4 linked regions of the Homo sapiens genome follow. The protein of the gene in region 1 purifies or fractionates together with the protein of each later gene. This does not show direct contact. Each region holds a gene or a part of one and is shown in the gene's direction. Other genes may lie near its edges. The genes, in order: LARS1, GARS1, CCT8 and IARS1.

What was found.
Region 2: the proteins of LARS1 (region 1) and GARS1 purify together in Homo sapiens (affinity purification with mass spectrometry; 2 studies listed by BioGRID, with this or other methods). This does not show direct contact.
Region 3: the proteins of LARS1 (region 1) and CCT8 purify together in Homo sapiens (affinity purification with mass spectrometry; 2 studies listed by BioGRID, with this or other methods). This does not show direct contact.
Region 4: the proteins of LARS1 (region 1) and IARS1 purify together in Homo sapiens (affinity purification with mass spectrometry; 8 studies listed by BioGRID and IntAct, with this or other methods). This does not show direct contact.

Annotation. Positions count from the first base shown.
Region 1 is NC_000005.10:146,123,649-146,130,685, reverse strand, and holds part of LARS1 (leucine--tRNA ligase, cytoplasmic), read left to right. Parts: intron 1-527; coding exon 528-668; intron 669-1,567; coding exon 1,568-1,708; intron 1,709-1,903; coding exon 1,904-2,014; intron 2,015-4,140; coding exon 4,141-4,251; intron 4,252-6,599; coding exon 6,600-6,704; intron 6,705-7,037. UniProt on the Homo sapiens protein: Aminoacyl-tRNA synthetase that catalyzes the specific attachment of leucine to its cognate tRNA (tRNA(Leu)).
Region 2 is NC_000007.14:30,597,864-30,604,900, forward strand, and holds part of GARS1 (glycine--tRNA ligase isoform 1 precursor), read left to right. Parts: intron 1-932; coding exon 933-1,034; intron 1,035-2,083; coding exon 2,084-2,186; intron 2,187-3,195; coding exon 3,196-3,337; intron 3,338-5,170; coding exon 5,171-5,259; intron 5,260-5,632; coding exon 5,633-5,709; intron 5,710-7,037. UniProt on the Homo sapiens protein: Catalyzes the ATP-dependent ligation of glycine to the 3'-end of its cognate tRNA, via the formation of an aminoacyl-adenylate intermediate (Gly-AMP).
Region 3 is NC_000021.9:29,056,638-29,063,674, reverse strand, and holds part of CCT8 (T-complex protein 1 subunit theta), read left to right. Parts: intron 1-144; coding exon 145-323; intron 324-1,118; coding exon 1,119-1,185; intron 1,186-1,259; coding exon 1,260-1,347; intron 1,348-1,431; coding exon 1,432-1,547; intron 1,548-2,107; coding exon 2,108-2,179; intron 2,180-2,257; coding exon 2,258-2,422; intron 2,423-3,014; coding exon 3,015-3,134; intron 3,135-7,037. UniProt on the Homo sapiens protein: Component of the chaperonin-containing T-complex (TRiC), a molecular chaperone complex that assists the folding of actin, tubulin and other proteins upon ATP hydrolysis.
Region 4 is NC_000009.12:92,209,670-92,213,697, reverse strand, and holds the end of IARS1 (isoleucine--tRNA ligase, cytoplasmic), read left to right. Parts: intron 1-2,808; coding exon 2,809-2,891; 3' UTR 2,892-3,491; downstream 3,492-4,028. UniProt on the Homo sapiens protein: Catalyzes the specific attachment of an amino acid to its cognate tRNA in a 2 step reaction: the amino acid (AA) is first activated by ATP to form AA-AMP and then transferred to the acceptor end of the tRNA.

The DNA of each region.
Region 1 (7,037 bases):
ATTTGAGAGCAAGCGTTTTCTGAGGTTTTCCACAAGGTGTCAGTATTTCCTCAAGTTTGGCATTTAAAGTGCTTAAAGTAAAAATGTAGCTTTACGCAATGAGCTGTGTAAAATATCACATTGAGTTTTATATAACTTGGTTTTCAGAGTTGTGGTTAAATAAGGATAAATGGCTGGGCATAGCAATGTGTTGTATTTATAGTCTTTTTTTATATTTAATATCCTATATGCTGCTAAGAGCAGTCACCCTTAATATACAGTTAAAGTTGTTCAACTTTTATGTCTCAGTTACAAACTGTCTGTAAAAAAATTCTTTTTTTGAGAATTATTAGTATAAAACTGCCATATACTTTGGACAAAGATAAATACTTGCAGATTCTTAAAGTAAAACCTTTACAGTAATTTGTTATGGATTTTTAAAAGACTAGAAACTTAAAAATGTGTTAAAACCAAGATACTGCAATTTTTCCCTTTATTTTTATTTTAAAGAAGGTGAGGGAAATGGTAAATAATTTCAAATTTTATAGGCCGCAAAAGATAAGTACCGTGAATTGGCTGTGGAAGGGATGCACAGAGAACTTGTGTTCCGGTTTATTGAAGTTCAGACACTTCTCCTCGCTCCATTCTGTCCACATTTGTGTGAGCACATCTGGACACTCCTGGGAAAGGTACCTTCATGCATTTAAAATGTTTCGAGTGGTTTTGATTTTGGCTTCATTAAATAAGTGTTGTGCTAATATTGTTACTTAAGAGAGAAAGTCTGAAAGTGAGTAATTCAAGAGTAATGCTGGATTCAGCATCATAATTATGACGGGTTAAACCAGAGCTATCTCCTATTCAGATGGATATATGTGCCCTTATTTATATACACAACAGTGCATACATATTTTTAAAAGGTGAAAATATTGAGAAAGATATAAACAATTGTTATGAGCTGCTTAAAAACAAAGATATAGGTGTATATTTGTGTATATTTGTGTAAGTATTCTTGTTTTATATAAAACTTCTGGCATATATAGGACTTAATATTCAGGGATAGTAGCATTCTTACTATGAATATAAATTCAGTTATTTCTCCCAGGCTTACAGATAAATAGATTGGCTGGTTTAATAACTCCTTTCCAGCCATATTAGCTAGGCTCTTTTGTATTTTTAAATGCATGAACAATACAGAAATGTGCTCATGATCTATATACCAAATAACCGTACTTGAATACTGGATGTATTAGCAGGATAAAAACTGAGTGTATGCATAATTTATATAATAATGATTAAATTTAGGCAAATTAGCATTACATAATTTTCTTTGAAAGTGAGCATATGTGTGTGGGTATTAATATGCTTGTACAAATGGATGCTAATTAAGAATGTAGAGTCAGACTTCACAGCTTGAATTCTAGGGAACATTAGATCAGGGGCTGTGCAAGTGTGTTATGTGTAGTCAAGTTTGAACTCTGAGCACACAATTACAGATGGTATCCTTGGTATGAAACTATAATCAAGAACCGTAAAATAGTTATATTGTCTAATCTCACTGAAGGTTTTTTTGTTTTTCTTTTTTTAAAAGCCTGACTCAATTATGAATGCTTCATGGCCTGTGGCAGGTCCTGTTAATGAAGTTTTAATACACTCCTCACAGTATCTTATGGAAGTAACACATGACCTTAGACTACGACTCAAGAACTATATGATGCCAGCTAAAGGGAAGGTAAAGTTTTTTTGTTTTTTTTTTTAAAGGATTATTCCTTAAAAGTTATTGATCAGATAACATTTAACAATAATGAAAGTTAAAAAGATTTTCATTAATGGTGAAGACCGTGGTGGTGTATGTTGGGGGAGGGTTCTTCTCATTTTTGGTTTATATAAAAGCTATTGAATGTTTTTCCTTTCTTTTACCGTCTAGAAGACTGACAAACAACCCCTGCAGAAGCCCTCACATTGCACCATCTATGTGGCAAAGAACTATCCACCTTGGCAACATACCACCCTGTCTGTTCTACGTAAACACTTTGAGGTGATGCTCTCAGTAGACTTTTCCCCCCTGATGGTGTTGTATGCTCCCTATGTTGTTTTTGTTTTTAGGATGTTGGCAATGTCTGGGAGAAGAAAGATAGGCAGCTTTGTTTCATTCCCTCTAGGCAGACAGCATCCTTTTGTTATTCTTGGTGGCTCTTAAATGGATGCTGAGGGAAAAGCTGCTGTTTTCCTCTCATTTCTGAAAAATTTATACAAAAATACATTGGATCTAGTTGAATGTAATCAAAAGAATTGGGGGTTTTCATATGTGTAGTTGAAATGATGAAATAAAAGGACAGAGTTTGCCTTTGGAATTTGTTGTAACTTGAGCAGTGGGAGTCATTCATTAAATTTATTCATTCATTATATTCATTCATTAAATTATTTCAAATCGTAACCTTGTTTATTGTTTGGAAAAAAGTGAAGCTTTGTTCTTGAGTACTTTAAATGTTGTTTGGTTTGATAATTACCTATAGAAATGTAGAGCTTGAAGACATTTTTGGCTGTGCCAGGTAATGATAAATCCACTTAAAGGGAACTCAATAACTTAGATCTAAGTTTTCCTGAAAGAAAAAAATGTATTTTTCCTCTGCATTCAAAATGTAGAAACAAAGTATGTTTATGAACTTTGGCTTTTTTGCTTAGGTTATTAAAACAGTTATTGCTAGATGCAGACCACTAAGGTGCACTTTAAAAAGAGAGACAAAATACGGATTGTGGTCAAAATGTAAAGAAGAAACGTAAAGGAAAAATTCTTAGCTTTGATATTCTAGACCATTATTGGAATTTTGCCTCAACACTTTTCATAGTTAATTAAGAAATGCTAAGAAAAGCTGCTTTTACATATGTAAAATTTGATAGAGAAGAGCAAATGTTTTTGTATTTCTTGTGAGTCTATTTTTGTGGAGAACTATTTCCACCTTTGAGTATATATGATAGAAATAGAAGGTGGCCTTTAGAATCTGCTTGCAGATTTTGAATTAAGGTAAATAAAAGATAAAAGCTACTTTGGTTGGCACAAAAGTGAAACTACCTCAGTGGATTATATATTCATACCAGCAATTTCAAGGAAGCAGTGGAAGAACCCAAATATAATATGTAATGTCTTAGGTATTAAAAAATGCATCACCTCTGTTCTTTTTGAAGTTGTTTTTTTACTTACTATTCATTTGCTAGATAATTGAAAACAGTGGTATCTTTTGGCATTAGCAGCTGTCTTTTAGATTTTTGTATGTTTTCATCCACAGGAATGAAAAGAATGTTCATTTATAATCACGAAGAGTGTTCTTATGTTGAATGTGGCACCATTTTGGTGACATAAGGCAAAGGAGTGTTTCCCACCCTTTTTCTTTTTCGTGTGTTTCAGAGGAATATATTAACAAGTAGAATATTTTTTTCCCATGTACTTTAGTAAAAGTTAGAATTGAAAATAGATTATTTGAAATTGTATTATATGTTCCTTTTCATTTAGATTCATTCCCAACCCTTCTTTTACAATAAAGAGAAAACAAGTTGCCCAAAACTTTGAAAAGACCAGTTGCTTTATTTCTCACTCTATTGAGGGGACCGTTAATATTTGTAGAAAGAAATGAATTTAGATTCATTTAAAGCACACTTGGATTGTACTCATCAGTGATATATGATATGGACATTTATTTTTGAGTAGATAGAAATGATTCTGTTTTTAACAGGTCAGTAGCTAGGGATTCTTTTCACAATTGTGGTAACAGTTTCTTCCAAGTGTCCAAAAGCAGACATTATATAAACTTGTATGATAGTTGTGTAATTTTTTATTTTAATATGACTAATAAAATGCTTTTAGAAATTTGAAAACAAGTTTTTATGAGACCATTTAGTTTCTGAACAGGAGAAATATTCAACACAAATCACTTCTTTTTCTCTTCTAAACTAAAAAGTATGTGTTGTTAATTTATAGAGAATAGGAGAGTTCCTTCTGCATTGTTCATTGAGCTTTCACTTCCCCGTGATGCTAGGGCTGGACACTTTTCTGCTGTTCTCTAAGGATTGATAGAGGCCACCATTCTATGCCTGGTCACATCTACTGTTCTGCCTTATTCTTGAGACTTTTTTTTCTACATTACTCTCCCTCCTTCCTTTTCTTAGGCCAATAACGGAAAACTGCCTGACAACAAAGTCATTGCTAGTGAACTAGGCAGTATGCCAGAACTGAAGAAATACATGAAGAAAGTCATGCCATTTGTTGCCATGATTAAGGTAAGCTGTGGACCTTATGCAGCTGTGACCACATGAGCAATGGTTAGATGGGACAATAGAAGGATGGGGAAAAGCCTTGGACATAGTCTCCTGCCAGAAATCTGCTAAAATAGCACTTTTCAATCAATGACTGAGAGAAATGATCTATCAGATTTTGGGTTTACTTGTGGAATTGCTGAGTATGTGAAAAATATTATTGTGGGAGAAAAATTGGTTTAGAATGGCTGCACTGAACTATTCCCTTCATATTCTACCTTCCCTTCTTTCAAACTCTTTTGGCTTACATTAGGCTTATAGAGGCTTGCATTTCCTAGACCCTATTCCTGGAACCAGGATTCAACATTTGTATAGGTATAGCTTAACAGGGTAAACATTGGTTATAGTGGTTAGACCAGGGTGTCTCAGCATAGCTCTGTTGGTATTTTGGGCTAGATAGTTCTTGTGGGGCACTTTCTTGTGCACTGTAGGATATGTAATGGCATCCCTGGCTTCTACTCATTAGAAGCCAGTAGAACTACCTTTCCTGCTAGTTATGACAATGAAAAATATCTCCAGACATTGCCAAATGTCCGCTGGGGGCAGAATCACCTTCCACTTCTTACCATTGAGAATTATTGGGTTAGACCCTTAGTTTTCTTCATATACGTCGCTGATGTATTACTGGATTTCTTGACAAAAAGAAACCGAAAGAAGGCTTATATTGCTTAAGATCGCAGGCTATGGGGCCAGAAAAATCTTGGTTGAAATTCTGTGTATCAGTCACTCCTTAGTTTTGAGACCTTGGACAAATCACTTAAATTTTCTGGGCTACAGGATTTTTCATCCATAAAATGAGGATACTATAGAACCAAACTTTTTAGGAGTGCTGTGAGGAGTAAATAAAATAGTGTACCTAACACACTTAAGTAGCACTAGTCAAGAAGTAGGCTCAGTAAATGTTGTTTAAAAATACAAATTAGTATCTTCCAGCCTACTAAGCATATTGTAGTTATTCTTGTACTGTCCTTTAATTCTTGTGTCTTCTTGGCTGCAGATGCCTGATGGAGACCAGACCTCTTAACTTCTTCAATATTATAATAGATTAGTATTCTTGGAAAAGGTTTTTAATTCTCTTAGACCAAAGTCACTATTTGATCCTCAGGGTATTTTAAGTTTCAGAAGTAATTTAGAATCCTGTGTTGACCTACACTAATCAAGTTGTAATGTAAGTGCTGGTATGTTCATAGTTCGTTGGTTCCCCAGTGGCTAGTGTCATTGGTCATAATGCCAAATCTCTGTCAACATGTGGATCCAACAAAATATTCCATTGATGGTTGCAAAGGCAATTAATTTTGATGACATGTTTTAAAAGAATCCAGGGAAACCTATTTGAAAAGTAGTTATGTGTATATGTATATATATATAGAGTGTGTGTGTGCGTGTGTGTGTGTGTATAAAATGATATTAGATTCAAGAGTTGGCTTCTTTAGGATCTCATTTAAATTTGAAGAACCAGCATCAGACCGTTTGAGTGGTAATATATTTTTAAAATTATGTTGGTGATTTGCCAGGCAAATTAGTGGTTTTGCAAATTTTGGAAGGGATTAATACATCTGGGAATAAGAAAATGACTTTCTAGCACTTCCATGAGAAAAAGAAATAGAACTTGCATAGTAAGCGAAAACAGTGAGTAGCAGGAATAATATCAGGTCACTTTCATTAAGTATAACATGTTCTAGGTAGTTATATCTGCATATGTACTTGGATCTCTAGGATTCTATTTTGCACAGCAAATATTGACTACCCAAGAAAATTAAGAATAAGAAATTATTTTTTACATGCCATGTTTGAGTACTCATGTAGTATGAGTTTTTTTTCTTTAAACTTTGCAGAAATATCTTTGGGGATTTTTTGTTTGGATATTATTAATTCACTATTCTCTGAAACAGCTTTAAGAAGGTGGTATCTCAGAAAATTAAAATTTTGTTTTTTTTGGGTAACTTAAAGGGATATTTTCACACATTTGGCTGATTCCCTGTAAAGTGAATTCTTTGGGCTTGCATGTTAAGTCAGTCTAAATAAACAATCATAAAACCGTATTTATTTTATAAATCTGAAAACCTTGTGCCTTCCCATCTTTTCAGTGCTGCCATAATCTTATAATACTTTAAAAGATAATTATTTGGAGCTAGTAAATTTCATTAACAAGCAAATGTAGGTAAAGGAAATCATGAGTCCAAGGCCTTTCCTTTAACTCCTGAAATCTGAAGATTTTATCAGTTGAGAGAAGAATGATTACTTTGGAGGAAGTATGTTTTCCAACATATTCTTACTGTGATTTTGTTTTTCCATACCATTTTGGCTATTAGGAAAATCTGGAGAAGATGGGGCCTCGTATTCTGGATTTGCAATTAGAATTTGATGAAAAGGCTGTGCTTATGGAGAATATAGTCTATCTGACTAATTCGCTTGAGGTAAGAGGGCCAGGGATTGTAATAACCAGTTAACTGTAGTTAAACCATAATCCAGCTCTTTTATTTTATAATAAACCTTTTTATAAATTTCATCTTCTGTGTTTAGTATCTTTGTTAAATATATTAGTCGAAAATATTTTTGGAGAGAAGAAAAATGGGTGAGTATAAAAGTTGCAGGAAAAAAAGTGATATGTCATCTTATTTCATCAATTCTTAATTTACATATAATCAATTATACATTAAAAAACTGTATATCTGGCTATTCTACTGCAAATTATTTTTAAGAGACCTTATATTCAAATGCTTTCCAAGCCTCTCATGTTATGGAGTACT
Region 2 (7,037 bases), on another chromosome or scaffold:
TACTCAGCTGAAAGTTTTTCATCCTATATAGGTAATATTTTGTTTGTTTACTCAGATGACCTATTCCACCATATTACTATAAATATGGAATTAGTATAAGTTGTTGGAAGTTAATAAAATAATTCAGAAATATTAGCAAGGAAAAAATTCCAACTGTAAAGAGAAAGGCAAAGGAAGATGAGCCAGCAGTGACTGAGAAGAATGGTCAGAGAAGTGGGAGGAAAACTGAATAATGTTTTTATTTTTTTTTGTAAGCGAGAGGAGAGAGATTTAAGAAGGTGGTCAATTTATTGGTTCTTCTGTGTTCTCAGTACAAATCTTGCTCTTTCCTACTTTTTAATCAATGCTTTTGTCTCCTCCTTTTTCACCCCTCTATACCCAAAGGAAAAAATTCACCATGTGAGCAGTTATTTGTTAACTTGCCCGTGTGTTCTTCTAGATTATTAAATGAAGAGGGCAGAGACCTTGATTCATAATGATCACTCACATAATAAACATTTGAATTGCATCATTCTTTTTTTTTTTTTTTTTTTTTTTCATTTTGAGACGGAGTCTCACTTTGTCACCCAGGCTGGAGTGTAGTAGCATGATCTTAGCTCAGTGCAACCTCCGCCTTCCGGGTTCAAGTGATTCTCCTGCCTCAGCCTCCCAAGTGGCTGGGATTACAGGTGCCCACCACCACGGCCGGCTAATTTTTGTATTTTCAGTAGCGATGGTGTATCACCATGTTGGCCAGGATGGTCTGAAACTCCTGATCTCAGATGGTGAGGAGGGCCTTTCAAAGTGCTGGTATTACAGGCGTGAGCCACCACGCTTGGCCTGAATTGCATCATTCTTACATAGACTTTTTAAAAGGCACGCTTAAAAACACATTCCTAACATTTCTTAACTTCTGAAACCAATCCTGAATATAAATTCTCTTTCTTGGCTAGGGAGATCTTGTGCGAAAACTCAAAGAAGATAAAGCACCCCAAGTAGACGTAGACAAAGCAGTGGCTGAGCTCAAAGCCCGCAAGAGGGTTCTGGAAGCAAAGGTGAGTCCTGGGATGCTAAAATAGGAACATAAGTAGGTATAGGATTGTTCATCTTTAATTTCTTTGGATGGGAGAGACCTAGAAAAGTTTCTGAACAAGTATCATTTGGTTTATCTGTTTATCCATAATGCCGCCTTCTCCTTTCCCTCTACCTGGTAGACTCCTCATCCTTTCAAAATGCAACTCAAAATGTCAACTTTTTAATAAAGCCTTCCTGACCCTGCAAATGCTGGACTCAATACGCTATATGAATTTCCATGGAAAGGATTGTGCTCTTCTTTACGACTTCTCTTATGCCTGAAAATAATGATTTTTGTTTGTTTGTTTGTTTTAAGGAAAAGGTCTGTTTATTTGATACCTGCTCCCAGACCTTTCAAACAATAGATCTCCCATCACCAAACTTAAGTTGTTTTGGGGTTTTAAAGTAACCATTTTGCTATAGCAATCCACTGACAATTCAAATATTGCTTTATATTGCTTATCAGTATCTACATCAAAGTAAACTTAGTCTTGTTTTTTTTTTGAGATGGAGTCTCGCCCTGTTGCCCAGGCTGGAGTGCAATGGTGCGATCTCAGCTCACTGCAACCTCTGCCTCCCGGGTTCAAGTGATTCTCCTGCCTCAGCCTCCCAAGTAGCTGGGATTACAGGTGCCCACCACCAAGCCCAGCTAATTTTTGTATTTTTAGTAGAGACAGTGTTTTGCCATGTTGGCCAGGCTGGGCTTGAACTCCTGACCTCAGGTGATCCACCCACTTCGGCCTCCCAAAGTACTGGGATTACAGGTGTGAGCCACCGCACCTGGTCAAGCTTAGTCTTGTAATCTTGGAAATGATCATATATTTTCCTAAATGATTAAGTAAAGATATCTTTTATATTACTCAAAGGGAAAAAAAGACCTATGGCTTCTATTGTTTTTAACCTATCAAAATCTTGTCTGTTTGATAAATTTTATATTTAATTCTGGTGAGGAATAAACTAAATTCAGATATATAAGTTCAGATTCCCACCCACCCCTCCACTCACTCACTTTTTATTTAATCTCTAACAGGAGCTGGCGTTACAGCCCAAAGATGATATTGTAGACCGAGCAAAAATGGAAGATACCCTGAAGAGGAGGTTTTTCTATGATCAAGCTTTTGCTATTTATGGAGGTAAGGGATTAATGACAAAAAGAACTATTGTGTTGTTAGTGGCTCTAATATTATACTTAAATCAAGAACATGGCTTGCCTGTTGGTATCCACTTGTATCAGGCCACAAAGCAGAGGATGGATGTTTTGCTTTTGTTTGCTTGGAGTCACCATTTGGTGTGATACCTGTTATTTTTCTCCACTGCATTTATTCCTGGACAGCACTTTTTTTGATTAGGATGTAGGGAATTGTTGGAGGCCCATGTATGTATTTGATGTGTCTGTGTACTCATGTACTCTTTTTAAAATGCAATGGAGACTGAAGAGTAACAGAGGGCCATTGTAGTACTGGCTAACTATACTATGCCCCTTCACACAGGGGCAGTGATAAAACAGTCCTTAGATTATTCTTTATGGTCATCTGCCAGGAGAAAACATTCTTCCCAGGGATGTAGATAAATCACTGTGAATGCCATATGAAGGTATATAGGCAAATACAATTCACTGATGAAATGTAAAACTATATTTTTCATAGTCAACGGATTATTACAACAACATTAGACATATAGTACTTTGCCACTGAAAGTTGACTTGAGTTTGGCTAAGTGGATCTGTAAATGTTTACCCTTTTGAGGTTAAATAGTGCCTCAAATACCCAGGAAAAAATTAGAGAATTGGATGCTAAAATTATAGATCATTGTTATCAGATGTGGTGAGAAATTATTTTGTAATTTTTACGGCAGAAAACTGTAATCTGCTTTTTCATTCTGTTCTCTAAGGGGGAACTTTTGTTGTAGATTTTGGGCTAGTCCTACTTGAAATTACAAATATAGAATTAGTAAATGGCGTAAGAGCTTTTTTATTTTACTTCCATCAGCTAGCTGAAAGTAAGGTTCTTCAGTATTGAGGGATTTGCATTGTTGACTTGAATACACTTTTAGGGAGTATAGGTATCAGTTTCTCATGTCTCCTTGCCTTCATTTGTTCAGAGTAACAAGGTAAAGTATGTGTTTTCCTCTCATATTCTATAGGTGTTAGTGGTCTGTATGACTTTGGGCCAGTTGGCTGTGCTTTGAAGAACAATATTATTCAGACCTGGAGGCAGCACTTTATCCAAGAGGAACAGATCCTGGAGATCGATTGCACCATGCTCACCCCTGAGCCAGTTTTAAAGTGAGATCTTACTTTGGAGTGGGGGTATCCTACTTTAAATAAAATAACTTATTAAATTATTTAATATACTTATCTAAATAACTTCCTGATTATAAAGAACTACTCATTTCATGTAGAAAATCTGAAAAATATGGAAAAGCAAAGAAATGTATACCTTCTGCTCACAGATAGCTATGTTAAGATGATTGTGTTTGTCCTTCCTGTTTTTTCTGTACGTCCCTATGTATTTCAGTGTTAGCAGTACACTGCTTATTTTCATGTAATATTGATGAACATATACTCATATCATTAACTATTCATCTAAAGCATTTTTAATGATAGCATAGTATTCTGTTTTATGGAAGTGCCATAATATGTTAGTTTGTGCCATATTGAAAGCATTAAAGTGTTTCTCATTTTTGACTGCACCGAATATCTTGATAGATGGATTTTTGGGTATATCCTTGATTATTTCCTTAATACAAGTTCTGAGCAAAGGTATACTTGTAGAGATTTTCAGTTAAATACTATTTGTTTTAAAGTTTCAATGCAGAAACTTAGATTATTCCTACCAACGTTATTGAAAGTAGGGCAGAATTTCCTTTTTTTGTGTGTGTGAGATGGAGTCTTGCTCTGTCGCCCAAGCTGGAATGCAGTGGCTTGATCTCGGCTCACTGCAAGCTCTGCCTCCCAGGTTCACGCCATTCTCCTGCCTCAGCCTCCCAAGTAGCTGGGACTACAGGCACCCACCACCACGTCTGGCTAATTTTTTTTTTGTATTTTTAGTACAGACGGGGTTTCACCATGTTAGCCAGGGTGGTCTCGATCTCCTGACCTCGTGATCCGCCCGCCTCGGCCTCCCAAAGTAGGGCAGAATTTCAGAATGTGAAACTGAAAGGAATTCTTTTATTTATTTATTTATTTTTTGAGATGGAGTCTCGCTCTGTCCCCCAGGCTGGAGTGCAGTGGGGCGATCTCTGCTCACTGCAAGCTCCGCCTCTCGGGTTCACGCCATTCTCTTGCCTCAGCCTCCAGAGCAGCTGGGACTACAGGCACCTGCCACCGTGCCTGGCTAATTTTTTTGTATTTTTAGTAGAGACGGGGTTTCACCATGGTCTCGATCTCCTGACCTCGTGATCCGCCTGCCTCGGCCTCCCAAAGTGCTGGGATTACAGGCGTGAGCCACTGCGCCCGGCCTGAAAGAGGAATTCTTGCCATTTTGTAACTCGTCATTATTCATTTAAGGTTGACTGGTGGAGAGCTAATTTTTACTATTGGCATCCGTTAGGTTCTCTTAATAATTTCAGCCAATGAAGAGGAGGAATTCTGAATGATGGCTCTATAAGATCAGGACTACCTATCATTTTAGCTACTTGTTCCACCAATAGGAACTTTGTAGAGATAATACCAATGTCAGTACAGGTTTCAGTGGCAGAAAACACTTCCCTTAAGGTTCAATGTCTATACTGAGCTGCCATGAATTCTTAACTAGTCAAATTCCCAGTGATTTTGGCCTTTGCTTAGATCACTAATAATAATGGCATAGGCATGGATTAATTGATCCTGAAGAATAGTACAGACTTTATGACAACTTGTAGAAAAGAATTGTCTTTTTATTGTCTAGTTAATGTCTTCTTTCTTATGGGAAGGAAGAATGTGGGAGAGGGTGAGAAATAGATTTGAGGAAGAATTTTCTCTGGCATCCATTACTGTCATGGATACATCATTACTATAGATATGGGAGCTTCCATCTTTGAGATGGATATAAATATTGATGGGGAATTATCTTATAAGGTAATATCTATGTGTAATTTGTATGAGAATGACAAATTGGGTTGGCATTTGTTAATTTAGGACCTCTGGCCATGTAGACAAATTTGCTGACTTCATGGTGAAAGACGTAAAAAATGGAGAATGTTTTCGTGCTGACCATCTATTAAAAGGTGAGGTTCTTCATCTCCTTCAGGTAGGATTGATCAAAATAAAAGGTTTAAACTTTCTCTCAGATGTCTTTCATTAAATTTTTTATTGAGGCATAACATTCAAAGAGCAAAGTGCACAGATCTTAAGTATATAGATCAAGTCCTTTATTTTTTAAAAAAGTTATATGTAGATAATTAGTTATATACAGATAATTTTTCTAATTAGCAAATGAATCAAGACAATACCATGACTGCTGTTGTAAAATCAACTGTGGGATTCATGTAAATTAAGAACTTTATGCTTGGATTTACTTTTTAATTGTCTAGCATTGAAACTGAAAAGTGCATTGTCCTTTTTCCCATTGATTGATATATGTCAACACTGTTCTTACAGCTCATTTACAGAAATTGATGTCTGATAAGAAGTGTTCTGTCGAAAAGAAATCAGAAATGGAAAGTGTTTTGGCCCAGGTGAGTACTCTAGAGATGTTATCAGAGTAACCTAGGTGGTCGCTGTCCTTCTTTCAGTGTTTAATGACTGTTGCATTTCCCATTATGCTGACCCTGGCCACATTGTAATGAAGCAGAGGTTAATTCTGTCCTGTATAGCGTCTCTTTTTTTGCATTTTTATTTTCTTCTCTCTTTTGTGACTAACCCTTTATTTCAGCCCAAACTAACAAGTCCGTGTTAATAGGCATTCAATTTGTCTGACCTTGGAAACTACTTTTCTGGATTTAATAGCTAAAACCACAGGAGTGACTGATGATGGGTAGTGTTCAGCACTGGTGTGGAGACTTCGGGGCAGATAACTTGATGAGCACTTTCTCACTGGCTACTTGATCTGCCTCTGCTTGGACCCTGATTTCATGCTATTATTCTTAGAACCTCATGAGCAGGTCCTGACTTTTCTGTCCTTGCTTTTCTCAGTTTGCCTATAGGCCTAAAGTTTTATAATTTGTATAATATTTAAGCTGACAAATTTTAGAGAAGACAAAAAAGAGACCACAGAGATAATTTATTCTGACCTTTTACCAATTGCAGGAATACTTTCTATATTAGAAGTAGTTCTTATCCTTTTGTTGGGTCACAGACCACCCTAAGAATGTGATCAAAACTGCACGTCTCCCTGGGAAGATGCATGTGCTCATGTATATATGTTGCTGGTGTCTCACCTCATCTGTTGGCTATTCCGTTTAGGCAAAGTACATTTCTCCAACACCATGTTTAGTCATGAGGTCTACTGAGGCTCACCTCTTAAATTTTATTTACTTCCTTGGGCAAAAAACAAAAAACCAATACTGTGATTATACCTATTTTCTTTACACCGATCTCTCTCTCTCTCTCTGCCTGAATATAGAACTCCCTAATATGTTGTTTTTCATGGGAATTACTGGATACTTTTCCACTGTTGTCCTAATTTTTTTTTTAGCATGCTTTTTTTCTCTGTGATAGTTAACTTTCCAACATAGCTAAAATAATTTCTCCTTCTTCATTTACATTGAAAACTTTCTTAATTTGGCTGTTGAATCATCTGCTGATTTATTTTGATACTTGTGGAGTGTAATTTTATCCCTTGCTTGAAGCTCATTGTTTTAGTAATTACTCATGGTTTAGAAAATTATTTCTTACATTTTGATACTGTTGAAGCCACACGTTCATCTCATTTTCTTATCCAAAGGCATGCCCTTTATTAGAAAAAATGGAAAATGCCTCTAAGTATCCCTAAAATTTTCCATTCAGAATTTTAGATTTACTGAGGTTTTGTGTATATGTTTTTGATCTTAACAGTATTATTCAT
Region 3 (7,037 bases), on another chromosome or scaffold:
GTATTCTGCTGCTTCATAATATATGCACATATATCTTCATATTTTTTTGCCAAACCTTTATTTCTTCAGTCAACTATTATCTAATGACTTTGAACACCAACGTAGTGAAATGATTTTAAAGGGAATGTTTACTTGTTTTGCCAGGGAACAGTGTTGATAAAGACTGCTGAAGAATTGATGAATTTTAGTAAGGGAGAAGAAAACCTCATGGATGCACAAGTCAAAGCTATTGCTGATACTGGTGCAAATGTCGTAGTAACAGGTGGCAAAGTGGCAGACATGGCTCTTCATTATGCAAATAAATATAATATCATGTTAGTGAGGTAAGAAAAAGCCGATTTTTTTTTTTACCTATATCATAAATGGTTTTTTGGTGGTGAAAACACTAAACGAAATAGACCATGAAGACTGTTAATAAAGGGAAAGTAAAGGTACTAGGTCAAATAGCAGAAGGATTTAGTTTGGGGAGGGGTCAGGAAACACCTCTGAGAAAACATAAATTTAAGCTGAGAGCTTGAAGAACCAATTACCAGATAATTGAAGAGGGAAAAGCATTCCAGGCAAAAGGAACAACTTGTCCAAGAGACTAGACACAAGCTTGGTGCATTGCCTATCAGAGTATGGAGTCAGGAAGATCCCTTTTAATCCATGAACACATTTATGGTGCACACTAGACAACTTAACCCATTTCTACCTACCACCATCCCTAGTACCTAATAAAATGTGCAAAATAAATCACTCTTGTTCACAGAACATTGATTGCACAAAGTAAAGCAAAAATTTTCTATATGCTGTTGAGTTTTGTAAGGGTTTCTCTGGTGTTTTAGAACTATAAACCACTGACATCCTAAAGTGACTTCCATTCTCCCAATTCTAGAACAATGCCATACAACACAGGCTTAAGATGTGGTACTATTGGCCAGCTGGACTCACTCAGAGAGTCAGGAATCAGCTTCCTGGCCTTAGTGTTCATTGCAATCCAGACATGTTCTGAGTTAAAATCCATTGTCAAAGGAATGTGACATGGGGGCTGGTATACAGGTTCCTCTTTAATTTGAACTTTATATGCTATCTGAAATTGATTAAAACTTTTATTAAGGTCTTTGTGTTTTTTAAAGGCTAAACTCAAAATGGGATCTCCGAAGACTTTGTAAAACTGTTGGTGCTACAGCTCTTCCTAGATTGGTATGTATTTTGGAAAACACTAAAAGATAGTTGAACAAGATGGAATTTTTATTACAACAGTCACTTTCTTACAGACACCTCCTGTCCTTGAAGAAATGGGACACTGTGACAGTGTTTACCTCTCAGAAGTTGGAGATACTCAGGTGGTGGTTTTTAAGCATGGTATGTAGGAATGGTAAAACATGTTTAAGTGTAGGGCTTTAGCTTCTTGTATTTAATCACCAAATATATTTAATTTTTTGATAGAAAAGGAAGATGGCGCCATTTCTACCATAGTACTTCGAGGCTCTACAGACAATCTGATGGATGACATAGAAAGGGCAGTAGACGATGGTGTTAATACTTTCAAAGTTCTTACAAGGGTCAGTATCAGCAATATTCTTAGTAGTTTGTAAGGTCTGAGTAATTTGTATGGTCTTAAAAGTACAGTTTGCAGACTCTTGCACATCATGAGAACTTCAGAATGAGTGGTTTATATGAAATGAAGCACCTGTTTTTGTTTTTACCTAAGACTTAAGTGTCCATTGTTAGTGAATATGATAGTTTCCAAAAAAGATTGTACAGAGGAGTTAACAGCAAAACAGAGCTTTAAAAAAAATTGTTTATCGTTGTTTTCCATTGTAATGTACTGTTAGTTGCTAAAGCAGTTCTTAGTGCTATATCTGTGGATATGCAAAAATGATACGGTACTATTCCCATTCTTCACTTTGGTCCTTTTCATACACCAGACACTGTGCACTAAGAAAATTTGCCCCACCCACTCATTTTTACCAAATTTGTAATATGTATTTGAGTAACAATGACTGATAAAAACTCCTGTTTGGTGGGGTACTGGAATGTGAAAAGATTAGAAAACTGCAAACTGATTTTTAGTGAATTTGTTTTGTGTTCATTTTTTTTTTGGTGGGGGCGCTACATACAGGATAAACGTCTTGTACCCGGAGGTGGAGCAACAGAAATTGAATTAGCCAAACAGATCACATCATATGGAGAGGTACAGCTTTTTCTGTATAAATTGACTTTCTTTCCATTGCTTGAATAAAAGACAGTAATTAACGCATTTTTGTTTTAGACATGTCCTGGACTTGAACAGTATGCTATTAAGAAGTTTGCTGAGGCATTTGAAGCTATTCCCCGCGCACTGGCAGAAAACTCTGGAGTTAAGGCCAATGAAGTAATCTCTAAACTTTATGCAGTACATCAAGAAGGAAATAAAAACGTTGGATTAGATATTGAGGTATTTGAAAAAACACTGAACTTAAATTGCTTTATTTGGGGAATGCACAACCTAAAAATAGTATGAGTTTAAAAGAAATATCAATGAGAAACAGTGTTCTGATTTGGGAGCAGATTATTTTCTTAGTTTTTACATAGGTTGTCTGATGGAGGAACGTTTCATTTTCCTTCTGTTTTATTGATAGTCTTTTGTTCTGTAGTGTGTAGTCAGCCCAGTTCTGTATCCATTGATTCAACCAACCACAGATTGAAAATATTTGGAAAAACTAAAGACATTTAAAAATACACTATAACAACTATTTACACTATGTTATATAATTAATCTGGAGACGATTTAAAGTATATGAGAGGATGTGCATAGATTATATCCAAACACCATGCCATTTTATGTAAGGGATTTGAGCATCCACAGATTTTGGCATCCTTGGAGGTGCTAGAACCAATCCTCACATACTAAAGGATGACTCTATAAGGTAGGACTGTGCTTGGTTACTTTCCAGTACTATTTAAGGAGCTATGTGAGGCTTTTTGTGGGTGTAAACATTTTCACATAAAAGGATTTTAAATGAAAGGATGAAAATTGTGTTTGACAGGCTGAAGTCCCTGCTGTAAAGGACATGCTGGAAGCTGGTATTCTAGATACTTACCTGGGAAAATATTGGGCTATCAAACTCGCTACTAATGCTGCAGTCACTGTACTTAGAGTGGATCAGGTGAGCAAAGTGAAATTTTGATCTTTAAAAATACTCATTTGCATACTGTTTAATAGTATATTTTCCCAGAACTAGAACATAGCATAGTTCTAATTCAAAGGATTCTTAGTCCTCACCTATTAGAGATACTATGTGCCCCCCTCCAATTTTTTTCTTCTATTATAAATTGTATTGAATATATAACTTTCAAACCTTTTAGCCTTAGAACCCATTTGTACAAATAATTTAGAGAGTAAATTTAATATATAATACTAACATGGAATTTGGAAGGACCATAAAGCTCTCAAGCAGACATTGCAGACCACCAGCTTGAAGGAAAATGGAGTCTCTAGCTGTCTGCAGATAAGAGGACTGGGCATTGAAAATTTTTTCTGCTATGACAAATTACAGCTTGAGATACTAAAAGATGTTAAAGGTGTTTAAAATCATATTTCTACCCTTTTTTTTTTTTTTTTGAAGAATTGTGGTAGACTGTTCTATATATAGAAGTAAACCTGAAATCATAATTATTTTTCCAAAAGGTATTTTCTGGCAAACTTAATTAAATACATTTCCCCACAAAATTCTAGAAGTAATTAATAAGCAATGACTATTTATAAGTACTTAATAGAAAATTTTAATTTGCTAGAGGGACAGTATACATCCATTAGGTAAAAGTCATATGTCATATTAAAGGTGGAGTAAGTCCTAAGTAGAAATCAGTGGAAAGACATTTCAGCTTTTAAGTACAGTAAGGACCAGTTGGTGGTAATTATAACAAATTTATTGGAAGAACTATGATAGCAAGAGATGACCAAAAATGGAACTGGATATTTAGTTTCAAGTCATTGAAAATAAGCAGAAACTAGATGTTTATGTACCAGATTAACGGGTTTCTCTGTCAGCTTATTAGGTGATTTTCAATGGAAGAATATGTTTGAGTTCTTAAATAGAAACCTAAGAAAATACTTATTCTAGAAATTAGAATGTGGCTAAGAATAAAAGGGGAAACCAAAAATAGCAGGGACGGAAGAAGCTAAGTAGACTGCAGCATAAGGAACGCAGAAATTCCAACTGTGTTAGGAACTTTGAATGTCAATTATTCAAGCAAGACAATAACCACCACCCTTGGTCACAAAGGCAGTTTGAATTTTGGCTTTAAACTAGGAAGTCTGCTTTATCTTATGGTAGGGGAAGTTGTTGGTTGATCTGTTCCCCCAGTCTTTGCACTCTATGTGAAGTATGTATCTAAAGAACCCATCCAACTGTATTAACCAGTTTGTGTATATAGTGTATAGTATAATGAACCTAAATTTGTATAGTATATATTCTAGAAAAGGAATTGCACATCAAGCTTTAAGCATTGGATAGTGTAGTACGGACTGGATTAATCTTTGTTGGAATGTCTATTTCACTAGTTCTCAAAGTATGGTCCCAAAATAGTATCAACATCACCTGAGAACTTGTTAGAATGACAGTTCTCAGCCAGGTATGGTGGCTCACACCTGTAGTCCCAGCTACGCAGGAGGCTGAGGTGGGAGGATCACTTGAGCCCAGGAGTTGAAGGCTGCAGTGAGCTGTGATCACATCATGGCACTCCAGCCTGGTTGACAGAGTGACACTCCATCTTTTAAAAAACTAAAAATAAATAAGAAATACAGATTCTTGGAGGCCAGGCGCGGTGGCTCACGCCTGTAATCCCAGCACTTTGGGAGGCCAAGGCAGGAGGATCACGAGGTCAGGAGGTTGAGACCATCCTGGCTAACATGGTGAAATCCCGTCTCTACTAAAAAAAACAAAAAATTAGCTGGGCGTGGTGGCAGATGCCTGTAGTCCCAGCTACTCGGGAGGCTGAGGCAGGAGCATGGCATGAACCTGGGAGGTGGAGCCTGCAGTGAGTAGAGATGGCACCACTGTACTCCAGCCTGGGCGACAGAGCAAGACTCCATCTCAAAAAAAAAAAAAAAAGAAGAAATACAGATTCTCAGATGTCACTCCAGACCCACCAATATCAGAAATGCTGGAAGAGGCCTAGCAGTCTGTTTTAATGAGCACTTTTGATTATGGTGCCCACTAAAGTTTGGGAACTACTTGTTTTAGTGTTTGTTTCTTTTTTTTCTTTGAGATGGAGTCTTGCTCTGTCACCAGGCTGGAGTGCAGTGGTGTGATCTCAGCTTACTGCAACCGCCACCTCCCAGGTTCAAGCAATTCTGCTGCATCAGCCTCCCGAGTAGCTGGGACTACAGGCGCATGCCACCATGCCCACCTAATTTTTTTTTGTATTTTTAGTAGAGACGGGGTTTCACCATGTTGGCCAGGATGGTCTCGATCTCTTGACCTCGTGATCTGTCCGCCTTGGCCTCCCAAAGTGCTGGGATTACAGGCATGAGCCACCACACCCAGCTTTTAGTTACTTTTTAAAATCAATGTGCACTTAGGTTCTAAAATTATGCTTAATGCCTTTAATTCAGTCTGAAATTACTCTCAATTGGTAACATGTTATTCTGAGAATTTCAGGTTTAGGTATCTTTTTTGTTGTTGTTGTGATAAGGTCTTACTCTATCACCCAGGCTGGAGGACAGTGGCACAATCATAATCAGCTCACCACAGCCTCAAAATCCTGAGTTCCAGTGATTCTTCTGCCTTAACATCCCGAATAGCTGGGACTGTAGGCAGGTGCTGTCATGGTTGGCTGAGATATATATCATATATATCTGATATGTATATATCACACATATCATATGTATATATCATACATATGTATATATCATACATATCTCATATATATCATATATATCTCATATCATACATATACATGATATATATATCATACATATATGTATGATATATATTATATATGATATATGTATGATATATGTATCGTATATATGATACATATATCATATATATATTATCAAATGTTATATATATATTTTATATATATATATATTTTTAGTTTTTGTAGACTAGGTCTCACTTTGTTGCCCAGGCTGGTCTCAAACTCCTGGCCTCAAACCTTGGCCTCCCAAAGTGCTAGGATTACAGGCATGAGCCACTGCCCAGTTCAGGTTTGCAGATGGTAATTAAGATGTTTTCCAGCCGAGCGCAGTGGCTCACACCTATAATCCCAACACTTTGGGAGGCTGAGGCGGGTGGATCATGCAGGAGTTTGAGACCAGCCTGGCCAACGTGGTGAAACCCCGTCTCTACTAAAAGTAAAAACTTAGCCGGGCATGGTGATGGGCACCTGTAATCCCAGTTACTCAGGAGGCTGAGGCAGGAGAATTGCTTGAACCCAGGAGGCAGAGGTTGCATTGAGCCAAGATCGCGCCACTGCACTCTCTAGCCTGGGCAACAGAGCAAGACTCCGTCTCAAAAAGAAAAAAAAAAAAAAAGCTAAAACCTATTTATTTTAGATAAAGTAAGGTGAGGTTTGTGGCGCTTTTTTTTTTAAGTTGGGAACTTAGATTTTTGTTTATGAAAATTCCTGGCTGCTTGAATGATTCTCATTTACAGGTTTTAGAAAATTTCAGTGTTAAACTTTGTATATACTTATGTATCAACTACTTTAGATTATAATGGCAAAGCTGGCAGGTGGGCCTAAAGCTCCTAAACCACAAGGAAATTGGGACAGAGATGGTTGGCAAGACACATCTCATATATAAATAGCAAATCAGGTGCCAAACTGACCGACTTACACCAGTGATGCATGCACATATTTTCACTTTCAGCTTTTTGAGTTATTGAAGTGCATGTCTTGGAATGTTCACTAATCTCTGTGGATTTTATTGCGGTTATCCATAAAAGCAGTAAACTTTCTCATGCGCTGAAAGTTTACAATTGAATTTCTAACAAGGGAGCTAGCAAACTCTGTGCTGTAGTGTTTTATATGCAGTACATAATTATACCAAGAAGACTGCTTAA
Region 4 (4,028 bases), on another chromosome or scaffold:
TGCAACAAATTTCCACAAATGGGATGGCTCAAGTCATCTCACAGCTCTGGAGGCCAGACACTGAAATTAGGGTGTCAGAAAGGCCACAGTCTCTCTGAAGGCTCTGTGGGAGAATTCCTTATATACTTCTTCTAGCTTATGGTGGCGCCAGGCATCCCTTGACTTGTGGCCACATCACTTCAGTCTCTGACTCCGTGGTCACATTGCCTCCTTCTCTTCTGTTTCCTCTTTTTCCAAATAAAGTGAACATTCACAGCTCCTGGGAATTTAGAACCTGGGCATATCTTTGGAAGGCCATTATTAACCGATTACATTCTCTTCACTTTTTCTCTTGTGGTGAAGGAACTTACTCAAATTAACCCTTTTGCTATGGGTTTCTTATTTGAAGTTCCAGTTTCTTCAGCAGAGATTTGTTGGACTTCCCGGTTTGTATATACCGGAGGCTTTTCTTTCCCTGCTTTCCTAGCTCTTTAGTGCCAAAAGCATTAAGCCACCAGACCCCATGGGAGTCATTATTTTTGGCCTCTGTGTAATTCTCCCGTTTTCTTCCTGTGCAGCTTTTTTTTTTAAATTTAGTTGCATATCGTACTTTTAAATTTTCTGTCATGATGTTAAATACTAAAGCTCTATTTCTTCTTGGGTTCCTCCTTCCCTCCCTGGGTTTATTTTCAGTGACTCTCCTTTGTCGTTTTCCCTCTCATCTCATCATTGGGCCTCATCATCCATCTAAGTCACCAGTCTGCAGTCTGTACTCTTCACCAGAGCTATCTTCATGAACATTCCTGCCTTGATTTTGTTCCCTTGCTTAGAGCCCCCAAAGCTCCTTATTCTCTTATGCCTCAGAATCTTCCCTTCCACACAAGATCCTTCCTGCTCTGGGCCTTCCCTGTCTTGCTAATTCTGTCCATGAGTCTTTCACTCTATCAAAGGCTTTTTTCACTCTCCCTCGAACACACTTGGCTCTTTCATTGTGGTATGGTAGTAAAGATCATCTAATAATGTAGCTTTCTATTTTGATAAGCTTATATAAAACTTTAGAGATAATTCTTAACTCTTCTTGTCCCTCAAATCCTTTGGTCACCAAGTACTGTTGTGCAGTGGAGCTGAAGATGACATTTATCTCTCACTTGTTCTTGCAAGCAAATGCAGTGGCATGATTGAACCTGGTCAGGGGTAGAACCATGTCTGTATGAATTATGTATTTATAATACTACCTGCAATTCACAGAACCATTCTTAACCTGTGCTGCCTTTCTGTATTCTCTTTACTCTGTGACGTTAGTTAGGCAAAAGTTTAGTGGGTGAGAACTTTTAAATGTTTAGTGATTTATCTAAGATTACCACAAAGTTGGAACTTTTTCTAATTCAGTATCTTTCCAATCTAGTATCTATAGCTTCGTTTTCATTATGCCTTTTCTCTCAGAATTGTCTTTCATAAAGTATCAATAACTTGGTAAATTAGAAGAGCCACAAAATGTTGACCATTTTAGAAACCCTTAGATGTCTTCTTGCTTGCTCCACTAAACTCTAAACATCATCTCCAGGTCCTGTAATTATCTATTAAGGAAGTAGCTTTGAGAGTATTCTCACATCTAGGATTGCTGCTAGGTAGGACAAGAGCTATTTTTAAAGGAAGCTCATCTGTTTGCTTTAAATTCAGATCTGACTAGAAGCAAAATGCTCCACAGTAGGCAGATAACTTTAAATTTTCTTTTTTTTTGTTTTTGAGTTGTATATTCAGTATATTTCAATCAATTGCATTTGGGTTATATTTTTGGATGCTCAGAGTTTTCGTCATTGGCCATATTGGATCCTGTATTCTTTAACATGATCCTTTGTCTTTGGTAAATTCTTGCTTTCTCACGTAGCAACATGTCCTAGGCTTATTATGTACTTTTACTTCTCCAGACGTAGAAAATAGCTGTTCTTCAAATTATAGAGAATCATATTTTGAAACCACATATCTGGGATACTGAGTTGGCACAGCCTCTAGGCTTTTTTTGTAGACATAGGAAGTATCTGTGTATGAGGAAAAATAACCATCTTGGCAGTACCCAGAGTTAGCCAAACTGTGAAGTGATGGCATAGTCCTCCAGAAGGCTCCAGGAGTCTGCCCGATATCTAACTCCACCTGCAAGGAGTGAGGATTCTACTCAGGGAAAGATCCACACAAGACCCCCATCACTGCTGGCACCAACTGCAAGTTCCAGGGATTTTCCTAAACCACCCTCAGGTTCAGTAACCTGCTAGGAGGACTCAGACTCACTAAAAGGTATTACACTCATGGTTTGAATTAGGGTAGGGAAAGGATACACGTTAGAACCAGCGAGAGTGAGAGAGAGAGAGAGACCCTGGAGTCATGGATAATGTTTCTTCCTCTCATCCCTTACATCTGACAACACAGAGACTATATTACCAACCAGGGAAGCTCACTCGAGCCTTGGTGTCCAGTTTCTGTTGAGGTTTCATTCTGTAGGCATGATTGCTGTCTTTCTCAACTGATATACCATGTGACCCAAAGTCCCCATCCTAAATCATATACTTGGTCTTTCTGTCCTGGCCAGCACTACCCTGAATTGTCTCATTAGCAACAACTGTCAGGTTTGGTGAACATACCCACCATGAGAAACAAAGATTCCTACCAGGAAATTCCAAGGATTTAGAGGTTCACCTCAGGAGCTGGGACAAAAGGCAGAACTCTTAGGATAAGGCCAAATTCCTTACTACACAAGCAGTTAACATTTTTTTAAATATTCACCCCCAATAGGTAAAATACTGATTTTTTTTCAACTTTTTCTTTCCATTCTAGAAATTACAGAAGACATCCCCGTGAAGACTTTGAATATGAAGACTGTGTATGTTTCTGTGTTACCAACAACAGCAGACTTCTAGCATGTACTTATCAATGTTGTTCGGTCAGCCCTTCCCTAATTACACCTATCCCCTACACATACATGCACATAGACACACACATGAACACACTGAAGATATTTCCTTCAGGTGTGTGTAAAATATGCTGCTTGGATTGAAATTCAAATGGGATTGATTAGTCAAGTAACTTGAGACCTCACAGTAATCTTCACACTTAACCTTAGACACCTATGCAGTCATGTTGGGAGCAGGTTACAATGTTACTTCAGCCCACAGTTTATTTCTATACTTGAGTTCTTAAGTACAGAAGATAGAAGTGATTTAAATGGCATAGTATATATATCATTTTCTGGCCTTTTAAAATTTATTTGAGACCTCTTGATGAAATGGACATATTATATATTTCTGCCACCTGGATTTTCCTGGATAATTTGATGGAATATTTTAAGTTTCAGTAAATCAGAACAATAAACAAACTCAGATATAAATGTGTTGAAAGTAATTCATTCTCCCATAGATAAATGAAACTTGAAATGTGTAAACTTTGAAGAACATAAAAACTTCATGGTGGTTTCTTATTAAGACAGTGGACTAGACATCTAATAAAACTTCTTTCCAAAATCCCAGGTGATAATTTGAGTCCTCAGAGAAGCAGATGACATGACAAAGTTAGATGTGCAAGAATTTATTAGAGGAAACATAAATGGAGGATAAACGGGAGATGGAGCAAGCGTAGGTCGAGAGAGCCTTCAGACTGCAGTGTGGGTCTGACACCTGTAAAAAGAGAAAATGAAGATTGATTAGCAAAAACTTAGACTGCAGTGCAACTCTAAGATGAAGTCTTGGTCAGGCCAATGGAGAGTTCCCAAGCAAGGATTCCTTTTAGTAGAGTTCAGAATTGGGCAGAAATAGCCTGGCTTTGTTTCTCTGACTTCCTCAAGTCAGTTTCTGGGAGGAGACCAAGGGGAGCGTGGCCTTCGCACAAATGCCTTGATGGATCTGAAAGTACCAACTACACTCCTCATGTCAGATTCTTTTGAAGGGAGATCTGAATGATACATCCCTATGGCTACTACAACAGATGCATTCACACAAAAACCCACAAGTTGGAGAAAATAGAGGAAACAACCAGAACTTGGGGAATTGGAAAGCAGATAG